Linked DNA regions of Homo sapiens: region 1 is linked to region 2. The links come from fine-mapping of genetic effects on gene expression. A gene starts in region 2. The other region holds a variant in brackets. All regions are shown on one strand. Distances are between the middles of the regions. Region 1 overlaps MATR3 (matrin 3). Region 2 holds the start of PAIP2 (poly(A) binding protein interacting protein 2).

Region 1 (5,000 bases), 38 kb after region 2:
AAGTTATACAACTAATTGCCTTCTTACTGACCATCCTACATCAGGCAGTGTTTACTTCATATCTAGTCTTTTAAAGTAAGGAGAACTAACTCTGGTCAGTACAGGAATAGGAGCCCTCCCAAGAAAAAACCTAGGTACAGGAAATACAGGTGATTTAAAGAAGGGAACTCCCCAAATCAGCATCCATCAGTACTCATTTAATGCTCAGGGCTACAGCACATCTAGAGCACAAAACAGGTAAAAATGAAAATGAGATCTTGGTTACACAGTTTCCTGTAAACTTTTCACAAGAATAGCCCAAATCACCTGGTAAATTTATGTTCTGATTATGATCCCCCAAGACGTGTTTCTAGATGAAATTGTTTTCTTTCTTAAATCATTATTGTTGTACCTCAGAAACTGTCACATAAGAATTTCCAAATCTTTTATATCACGATTGTCATAAAATATTAGTTGAAAGATATACATAACATCTTCAGTGAAACAATTTTATAATCACAACTACATACAGAGGTAAATCTGAAGTTGTTTGGTACAGAATTCTATGAGGCATTGCTTAAATTTTCTATTTTTTGATCACCAATACACTCAGCACTGGTAGCTTAATATGTGAAACTTTAACAGTAAAACCAGACAATATCCAGTAGTTACAAGTCTATTACAGGATCAATTTCACCAATGATAGATTAAAGCAAGGATACAATGGACAAATACAGTGGCAAAGGAAGTATAAAAAAAGTTGCAGGCAAGAAAGATTTAGACTGGATTTTAAAAAATAGATATAATCAAGTTTTAAAAGACACAGAAATGCTATAAGAGGTGGCTGGAGTTACAGGAAGATGTTTTTGCACACCAAGAAAGATGAATTTGAGAAAATACACCAAAGAAACTATTAATAGTTCTAGACAAGATCCACTATGTAAACTACTTAAGCTTTAAGATTAATAAAGACGAGAATAAGTGGACTTCTTCAGATGAAAGTTTCTTTGATATGTCTTATAAATGCCAGACAGAATGGCGGCTGAGATGCTATGTAAATGGTGGTGGACCCTCTAAATTTTCACACATATTTTTACAAATCAAATCCTTTAGAGGGTTTTTCAAAATAAAAATGTTGAAGTATCAGGGTTATTAATTGCAGCTTTGACCTTCATGTTGTAGCCAAAGCTTTGCATTACTGAAAAGTCAGTCTTTTGAATTATTTTTTCCCTAAGAGAAATTATATAATGGTATTACAATTATGTTTAAAATTTTTAAAACGGCCATATTTTAAGGAAATGTGACTGTTAGACTACAGAGCTCTGAATTACATTTTTTGGTAGCTCATAGGAAAACAGTGGATCAACAAAAGGAAAAAGTTAAGAGAAGCAAAGGTAAAGGATAACCTTAAGACAAACAGAAAATGAATGTCAGAAAAACTCAGAAAAGAGTCAAGACAAACAATGTAAATCCCATGACAACGTGTAATTCCATAACCACCTTAGTAGTTTTAAGATACTCAGTTTCAACGTAAAATGCAGCTCCATCAAGGATATTAGGGTAAAATTAGTGAAAAGCAACTTAAGTTAGATTTTGGATTAAACCACAAATAAACCAAATTCTTAAAAATGGTTTTATTAGAACAAAGTTGGGAGAAACCAGATGTGGCAACATTGTTGAAAAAGCATTAATGAAAACAGTTCCTCTATCATGTCAATGCTGAACATAAGATGTACAAGCCACTTTTAAAGGCTCATTCACATGGGCCCCACTGCCTATTAGCAAAGGCAGCACAATATGGAGACACTTACTAAAGATTTACAAAAGATTAGCTCCTTTTACTGTATTGTTTTTTCCTGTAATTATAAAATTGCCTTTCTATAGGAAACTGCACTAGAGGTTAAAACAATTTTAAATATAGTAGCTTTGGGAGAACATTTATTATCAAAATCCAATTTACCTATTTAAAATCTCTATATACTAGTGTAAATGCCCATCAATGCAGAACCCTTCACTTCCAAAAAAGAAAGCACCTGCACCCCCCTAAAAACTATCAACATTACCCACAATTTCACTACACAAATGCCATTTACTACAATCTTGATAACCAAATTCTTTTTTTTTTTTTTT[C/TC]AGATGGAGTTTCACTCTTGATGCCCAGGCTGGAATGCAATGGCACGATCTCAGCTCACTGCAACCTCTGCCTCCTAGGTTCAAGTGATTCTCCTGCCTCAGCCTCCCAAGTAGCTGAAATTACAGACACACACCACCACTTCCAGCTAATTTTGTATTTTTAGTAGAGACGGGGTTTCTCCATGTTGGTCAGGCTGGTCTCGACCTCAGGTGATCCCCCTGCCTCGTCCTCTCAAAGTGCTGGGATTATATAGGCATGAGCCACCACGCCTGGCCCGATAACCAAATTCTTAACAAATTAGCTTAAAAATTCATTTTTATAGGCAACTCAAAACAAACTGTAACTTAAAATTATTTTATGATACAATTTTAAGCTGTTTAAAAATGTTAGCTTCACATTCAACATCTAAACAAATCTGAGTATCATCCCTATGTATGGTTAGGAAACGTTTCAGTTAATATTCTACCTCCCATTACATGAGAATCTGATTTTTGTTATTGGCTTTTTCTTCTCCAATTAAAAGAACTAGAGTACTAAAATATTTCTGAAAAATTTCACATACCCTGAAAATTCACGGAGAACAGAAGCAAACAGCTGTTCCAGATCTAAATTTCCTTAAAGATTACCGGTAAGTCCTTAGTCATTCTTTCAGAGTAATATCTAGCAGAATTACTAAAATAAGCGCAAGCTAACTTTAATTTCTTAGAAGGTATTAGAAAAAAATGAAAAGATTTTTAGTTTAAAAAAAAAAGACAGTGTCTGACTCCTTCATTGCCCAGGCTGGAGTGGAATGGCATCACACCTGGGAGTGCATTGCCCAGGCTCACTGTAACCTCTGCCTCCCAGGCTCAAACCATCCTCCCACCTCAGCCCAAGTAGCCGGGACTACAGACACATGCCACCATGCTCGGCTAGTTTTCATTGTTTTGGTAGAGAGGGGGTTTTCACCATGTTGGCCAGGCTGGTCTCGAACTCCTGGGCTCAAGCAATCCTCCCGCCTTGACCTCCCAAAATGCTAAGAGGTATCTACTACTCCACATGGATCTTCAGCTATGCTCTCAACTGTGTGAGATAATCACTCCTTTAAATAATTTTTCTCTGGCAGGGCGCAGTGGCTCACGCCTGTAATCCCTGCACTTTGGGAAGCCGAGGTGGGTTGATCACGAGGTCAAGAGATCAAGACCATCCTGGCCAACATGGTGAAACCTCGTCTCTACTAAAAATATAAAAATTAGCTGGGCATGGTGGCACGCACCTGTAGTCCCACCTACGTGGGAGGCTAAGGCCGGAGAATCACTTGAACCTGGGAGATGGAGGCTGCACTGAGCCGAGATTGGGGCACTGCACTCCAGCCTGGGCCACAGAGCAAACATCGTCTCAAAAAACAAAACAAATAAAAAAATAATTTTTCTCTTCTCAGTCTTTGTAGTCAGAATTAAAAAAAAAAAAAACAACTAATTTGAGATGGTTTACCCATAAAACTATGAAAGATTATTTATGGTTTAACCATAAAACTAGAGATACTCAGGGAAAAAAATACCTTCATAATGACATTATTTTAACTTCACATTGAAACTTACAAGCAACAGCTAGAAAACTACAGTTTCTTATATTTTCCTCTTCTGAATTGCAAGAAATGCTCAGATTTTCCAAATGTTCTATCAAGGCCAATCACCTTGATCATTTATTAGCTTATTCATGTGAAAATATACCAAATATGTTTTAGGTAGCAATCAACAATACCAATTTAGTAAAAATGTCTTAACCTATGTCACTGATAGATGGCAGACATAGTTGACTGTCAGTAATTTCAAAGCAGCACCATTTGGAAGGTAGCTGCTTGATTTTTGTCATAAATCACACAAAAATATTGATTCCTGCGGTCAGGACTTTCAAACCAAGCATCCAACTTATTTTCAATTCAAGAACAGGTTTCAGTTACTATTTAAATTTTTCTTCATTTATTAAATTTTATAATGGTTTTATAAAGAATTTACCATAGTTTCCATTTTAAAAGTACTACAAGTTTTCATTTTAATGGTGTATATAATATTTCCTAACATATTTTGTAACAATTATTTCATTTAAGGGTTTTTTTGAAGTATGCTGAAGAACTACATTTTTTTCCTAGAGTTTCAGCCACTTTCAAATCTTATGCTCTCTAATCTATGTTTTTGAGTGTCACAATCTCATCTCAGTATGGCATGTACCTTGAGTGGCTTAAGAGTTTTTAAAATAGGCCAGGCGCAGTGGCTCACACCTGTAATCCTGCACTTTGGGAGGCCGAGGCGGGCAGATTACCTGAGGTCAGGAGTTTGAGACCAGCCCGGCCAACATGGTGAAACCCCGTCTCTACTAAAAATGCAAAAATTAGGTGGGTGTGGTAAAGTAGCATGTGTCATCATACAATAGAAAAGATAAAAAAGTGTAGTGCCAGGAAGGCTGAAATACAAGCATGAATATTTTCAAGTGCTTTAAGACCACTGTTCTTAATCCATCTAACAGACGTGAAGTCAATTTTTAGTCCACTTCTTGATCCTTAGGCTAATGAATGACAAGAATGTTGCAGAGTGGCGTCAGCTGCTGAGAAGACAGAAAACTACTTGTTAACCAGTGTAAGAAATTCCCACTCAGACCTGGAATAATACTGTCTTCTTCCTAGGTTTAAAATTTTTTCCCAGTGACCTTCAATCAGGCAAGAAATAGTTTCAGATTAGAACTACACAGAATTGATGAAGTAAACCCGTATTACAAGATAGAAAGTTACCCCGTGTACCTGATGATGTTCATTGTCTATTTGAACTACGACATAAACTTGGCTCTTTACTTTCTTCTCTGCTTAAGCAAAATCAGTGATTTCTTTCAAGGCTCCATTCTGGGCTGGGCGCGG
Region 2 (5,528 bases):
CTGATAAAAGCTCAAGTACATTAGAAATGCCACCCAAATTTATACAAACTGATATAAGAAGCAGAGGCTATTCAAATTCTCCAAACGTGTGCCCATCCAATATGGTGGCCATCGGCTACACAGATCTATTTAATTAAAATTTAGTTCTTCATTTACACTAGCCACATCTCAAGTGCTCATAACCACACACAGTACCTACATCATTGGACAGCACCACTCTAAACAATGAAAAAATTAAGAAAAAAGGGAGTTTTTTGGAACTGAACCTTAGCCTATATCAAATGCAAACTATTCATGCACCTGTGCAACAGGTGGTCTAGATCACAAAGGCAATGACTTGGACAACTTTAATCTTAGACCACAGTCAGAAGACGTAGGTTCAAATCCCAGCTATGCTACATAGCCACCTTAAAGTACCCTAGACCTGTCACTAAATCACACAGCACCACATAATGGTTAAGAGCATAGAATCTCTGGACTATCTGGATTTGAATTCCGACTATCATAGCTCTGTGACATTGGGAAAGTTACTTCACGTCTCATTTGTTATCTTCATTTTACAGTAGGGCCTACCTTCTAGCTATGTTGTGGATCAAATTAGTTAATATTTGTAAAGGCAATGAGAACAATGCCTGGCATTATTGTTATATAAATATTTGCTAAATAAAAATAATCTTTCAGGCTTCTATTTCTTTAATTCCCAAATGGGCAAGATAAAACTTGCTCTGTTGGGAGGCCGACGGGGGCGGATCACAAAGTCAGGAGATCGAGACCATCCTGGCTAACACGGTGAAACCCTGTCTCTACTAAAAATACAAAAAATTAGCCGGCGTGGTGGCAAGCGCCTGTAGTCCCAGCTACTAGGGAGGCGGAGGCAGGAGAATCGCTTGAACCCGGGGAGGCGGAGGTTGCAGTGAGCCAATTGCGCCACTGCACTCCAGCACTCCAGCCTGGCGACAGAGTGAGACTCCATCTCAAAAAAAAAAAAAAAAAAAAACTTGCTCTGCCCATTTCACGTTTCATGATAATGAATGACAATAGGATGTAAATTACAAGAAAATGTTTTAAAAGCACAAAAGGTTATTAGATTACAAGGGGGCAGAGGTCTTGCCTTCCACATTCTTTAATCTCCCACAGTATCAACCAAATTGCTGTGCTAAGTGTTCAAGTTTTTCACTAAAACTGGAGCATCACACTCTAGAGTCATAAAGTGATAAACCTGAATAAAGTGCAGAGTGCTTATTTAAGGAAAAGCCTGCTATAAACTCATTCTGACCAAAAGAGGGTGAAATTACCTACCTCAATTTGAGTTCCTAAGGAGCAACGTGCACAGCCTTGAATCATTAGAGGAAATCTCCATTCCCTAACCTCCATCCCTTAAAGAAACACAAGTGGGTTCTATAGTTCTTGTCAAGTTACCTATCCTGTGATTTTGTGTGTGTGTGAAAAAGTTTTATTCAAGTTCACAACTGACAAGTAGTATAAACAGACTAATTTTCCCCAAATATCCTGTCTTTCACTAACTGGAAACAGAATCACAAAAGCAAATAGTGGAGTCTCATTAAAAATTATTGTAGAGAACTTTTACTTATTGCAAACACAACCTACGCCAGAAGAAATTTCAAAAGCGACTTAATGAAAATATAAACCAACACCTGATCTAACTGTGCTAATGAAATCTGTGAAAAAACAATGCCACCACGTTTCAACATTAGCCAGCACACCCAACATGAACATCTACTTTCCGTTGAAATAAACGTCAAAGGCTGTCAGCTGCTACACCTTCCAAGGCAAATTGGAAGCCAAATTCTTTCTAGAGTTTGGGGTTTTTATGAGTTGATACGGGTGCCAAATCAGGGAAAAAAGAAACAAAAGGAAGCAGGTAAGACCCCTTTTAGGAGTCCCTAAAAAATATCACTGCTGGCTGCTGCAACAAATGTTTTGAAGACCTAAGTTCACCACAAGCCTTATTTATTTCTGGTGGCGATGGTGGGGAAGGAGGAGAGTAAGCACAGAAAATTATTAAAAGGTAAGAGGACCTTAAAGTTCATCTAACTCAACGCCCTCCTAGGGTAAGGGTTCCCAGTACCCCAAAGGTTCTTTTTTCCAGGGCATGAGCTGCAATACAACCAAAAATAAGGGGTAGCGATGGCGAAGAAACGGGAGAAAGACGATCTTCTGATCAGGCCCGTCGACGGTTGCAGCGTTCCCCCAAGACGCCAAGAGCCCGCCAGTCCCTCCGCCCCTCTCTCCCCAAACCCCAGCCTCGGCTGAGGCGCGCACGCGCAGCAAGTAGGGGCTGCGCGTGGCGACGCGCAGGCGTAAAGTGGGTAGAAACAATAAGCTTTGTTGCCGAGGCGGTGGGAGGGGGGCAGGGGAAAGGGTACCCGGCGGAGGGATAAAGGACCGGGAGAATGAGGAACAGGAGAAAGTGCTATCCCGGCAACCCTCGCGCCACTGAGGACCCGGATAGAGAGCTGCGAGATCCAAATCATTAATAATGACAATGAAAAAAAAGCGACGGCCATGTCTCGGAGAAGACAGAGACGAAGTCGGCCCAAGCTCATCCCTCAGACTTGGTGGAAAGAGGCAATGAACAACGGAGGCCGCAATGGACTCGGTGGCCAACCACCCAGGGAACCCTTTAGGCCCCTCTGCCGTCGCCGACTTGCTGTCCCTCGACCTCCGCACCCCTGTCGCCACTCTGCCCGAGAGGACCCCTCACCCAATGCACAGCAGCGGGGACGGCAGCCAACGAATCCTGTCGGCCTCCGCGGATCTCCACAGGCAGCGCCGCTCCCCCGCTCGACGTGCGCTTCGCCCGCCGCCTCCCTTCTCCAGTCCAAACAAACACCCCAGCCCGGAAGTGACTTCACTTCCGTCGCCGCCAACCCCGCCCTCTTGTTCTGTCAGCTCTGCCCTCCGAAGCCACTAGAGAGCGCGCGCGAGAACGCGCGACCCCGAAGTCTGTCTCCAAGGCTGCACACGTGTGCACGCGCAGCAGCCTTTCCAGCGCGCCCCTACGGCCGGCTGCCGGGTGTAGCAGGAACGCTGTCGCACGTTCTCTCTGGAAGGCAGGAATGGGGGCGTACCACTGTTCCCACACCCGCCCATCTTCCGAGAATGATGATATGCAATGAGTGAGGCAGCTGGGGACTGAAGAGCACCCTGACAAGATACACAGGCGTGGACTTTCACAGACATCACACACCCCCCCAAAAACGTAATATTTAGGTAATGACATAGCACACACATACCCATACACACCCCAAGAATGATACACAATGTCACACAAACAGCGACATGCACCGAGTCACGTCAAGATCCTGACACAGAAAAATAATAAACTAAGGGAAATCACAGAGGCGTACTAAATGATATGCAAACATCCGCACTCAGACATGTGCAGGCACAAAAACACACTTTTTGAAGCTGGATGCAAACGCAAAATACAAATACATGTGCAACTTCTTTGTGGCTAAAGGAGGAAATGCCCTGTCCACACAGGATAGAAAAGTGTGACCTCCGGGTTCAAGAATTTTGTAGTCCGTGATCCTGGGTGCACTGGCCCCATAGTTATTCTTACCCATGCTTCCTTCCTGTCATCGTTGACAAGCCCCAAGATATATTTCTAGTGACACTAAGCAATGTAAAGAAGAGAGTATGTTTTTGTTTTTTTGTTTTGTTTTGTTTTTTTGAGGCGGAGTCTGGCTCTCTTGCCCAGGCTGGAGTGCAGTGGCGCCATCTCGGCTCACTGCAACCTCCGCCTCCCGGGTTCAAGAGATTCTCCTGCCACAGCCTCCCAAGTAGCTGGGACTACAGGCGCACGCCAGCACACCCGGCCAATTTTTGTACTTTTAGTAGAGATAGGGGTTTCACCGTGTTGGCCAGGATGGTCTCGATCTCCTGACCTCGTGATCCACCCGCCTCCGCCTCTCAAAGTGCTAGGATTACAGGTGTGAGCCACCGCACCCGGCCGAGAGTATGTGTTTTACAAATCTGGATGTTCAAATGTGTAGATACTATCTTTGAAAAAGGGACACAAACTAATTTCTTCCCTTTGGAGAGGGCAAATGACCGACTAGGAAATGGGTGCAAATAACTATCCTTTTCTCCTGAAAAATTTGAATCTTTTAAAAACTATATGCTTGTAGTATTTACTAAGACAAAAAATTCCCTCCATGGGAAGGCTTGAATTTAGAAACCGGGTTGTTCCTCTTCAGAGCTATTTCATTCACTGAATACTCTTCTGGGCCAGTCCAAAGCCCCAAAGAAATGAATGCAGATGGTTCTGCCCTAGCTCCTGGGTCAACCACCTTGGCAGCACTTACAGATCTATATTCTAAACTGTGAAGATAAGCTATCAATCTGAGGCTGAAGGAAGTCTGAACATAACAAAATAGGTATTTATATAGTCTGAGATGACTCAGACTCTCTTTTTAAGACACAGTCTTCCATCACCCAGGCTGGAGTGCAGTGGCATGATCACGGTTCACTACAGCCGCAACCTCCCTGGCTCAAGCAATCCTCAAACCTCAGCTTGCAAAGTAGCTGAGACCACAGGTGTGTACCACCATGCCTGGCTAATTTTTGAATTTTTTGTAGAAATGAGGTTTTGCCATATTGCCCAGGCTGGTCTTGAACTCCTGGGCTCAAATGATCTGCCCGCTTCAGCTTCCCAAGGTGCTGGGATTACAGCCGTGAGCCACAGGGCCTGGCCTAACCCAGACTCTCTTAAAAGGTAAGCATGAGGCCAGGTGCGGTGGCTCACACCTGTAATCCCAGCACTTTGGGAGGCTGAGGCGGGCAGATCATGAGGTCAGGAGTTTGAGACCAGCCTGGCCAACATGGTGAAACCCTATCTCTAATAAAAATACAAAAATTAGCCGGATGTGGTGGCACATGCCTGTAGTCTCAGCTACCCGCGAGGCTGAGGCAGGAGAATCGCTTGAACCCGGGAGGAGGAGGTTGCGGTGAGCCCAGAGCATGCCATTGCATTCCAGCCTGGGTGACAGAGTGAGACTCTGTCTTAAAACAAACAAATAAACAAAAAGGTAAACATGAGATAATTGAATTTGTTATTTAGTAACACAAGCCACTTAACTGGTTATAATGGTAATAAAAAATATTTGATAAATCATGTGAAACACTCAAAGGCCAATGCTGTTTTTCCCACACAAAGGGGTTAAGATCTCAATTTCCAGATCGCACTGAGAGTTCACCACAGTGGCTAAGCGTCAGGGGCCCAGTATTTCCTTGGCATTCTCTAGACATAAGGACACTCTGCTCACATGCAAAATAAACTTCAATGTAGCAATATTATACTTGGATAGTGATGGTGATGATCTATACATGGAAAACAAAATAATGAAGGCTAACAAGTTTGCTAATGGTAAGGAGAGACACTGCAATGGGACCAACAGAGAGATCCAGTTTTAAAACACTGCAAAAATTTACCTATCTGGTTCACATAGTAACCATCTTAAGATGGAGGTTGAAGTAGAAATCAGAAGGCCCAGGATGGCTAT

What was found. PIP is the estimated chance that this variant, and not a neighbour inherited with it, causes the effect.
Region 1: its variant is the best candidate, but not a certain one, in a credible set for the expression of PAIP2 in whole blood (INTERVAL, PIP 0.56).

The regions. Positions count from the first base shown.
Region 1 is chr5:139,301,610-139,306,609 of GRCh38, reverse strand. All of the region lies in intron 1 of MATR3 (matrin 3), which reads right to left. Among named protein-coding and RNA genes, the nearest start is that of MATR3, 10 kb to the right of the region's middle. RefSeq lists a silencer at 4,456-4,750. The variant C/TC (reference allele first, on the strand shown) is at 2,110.
Region 2 is chr5:139,339,178-139,344,705 of GRCh38, reverse strand. It overlaps PAIP2 (poly(A) binding protein interacting protein 2), which reads right to left and starts at 2,852. Exons shown (of 4, transcript NM_016480.5): 1 at 2,726-2,852.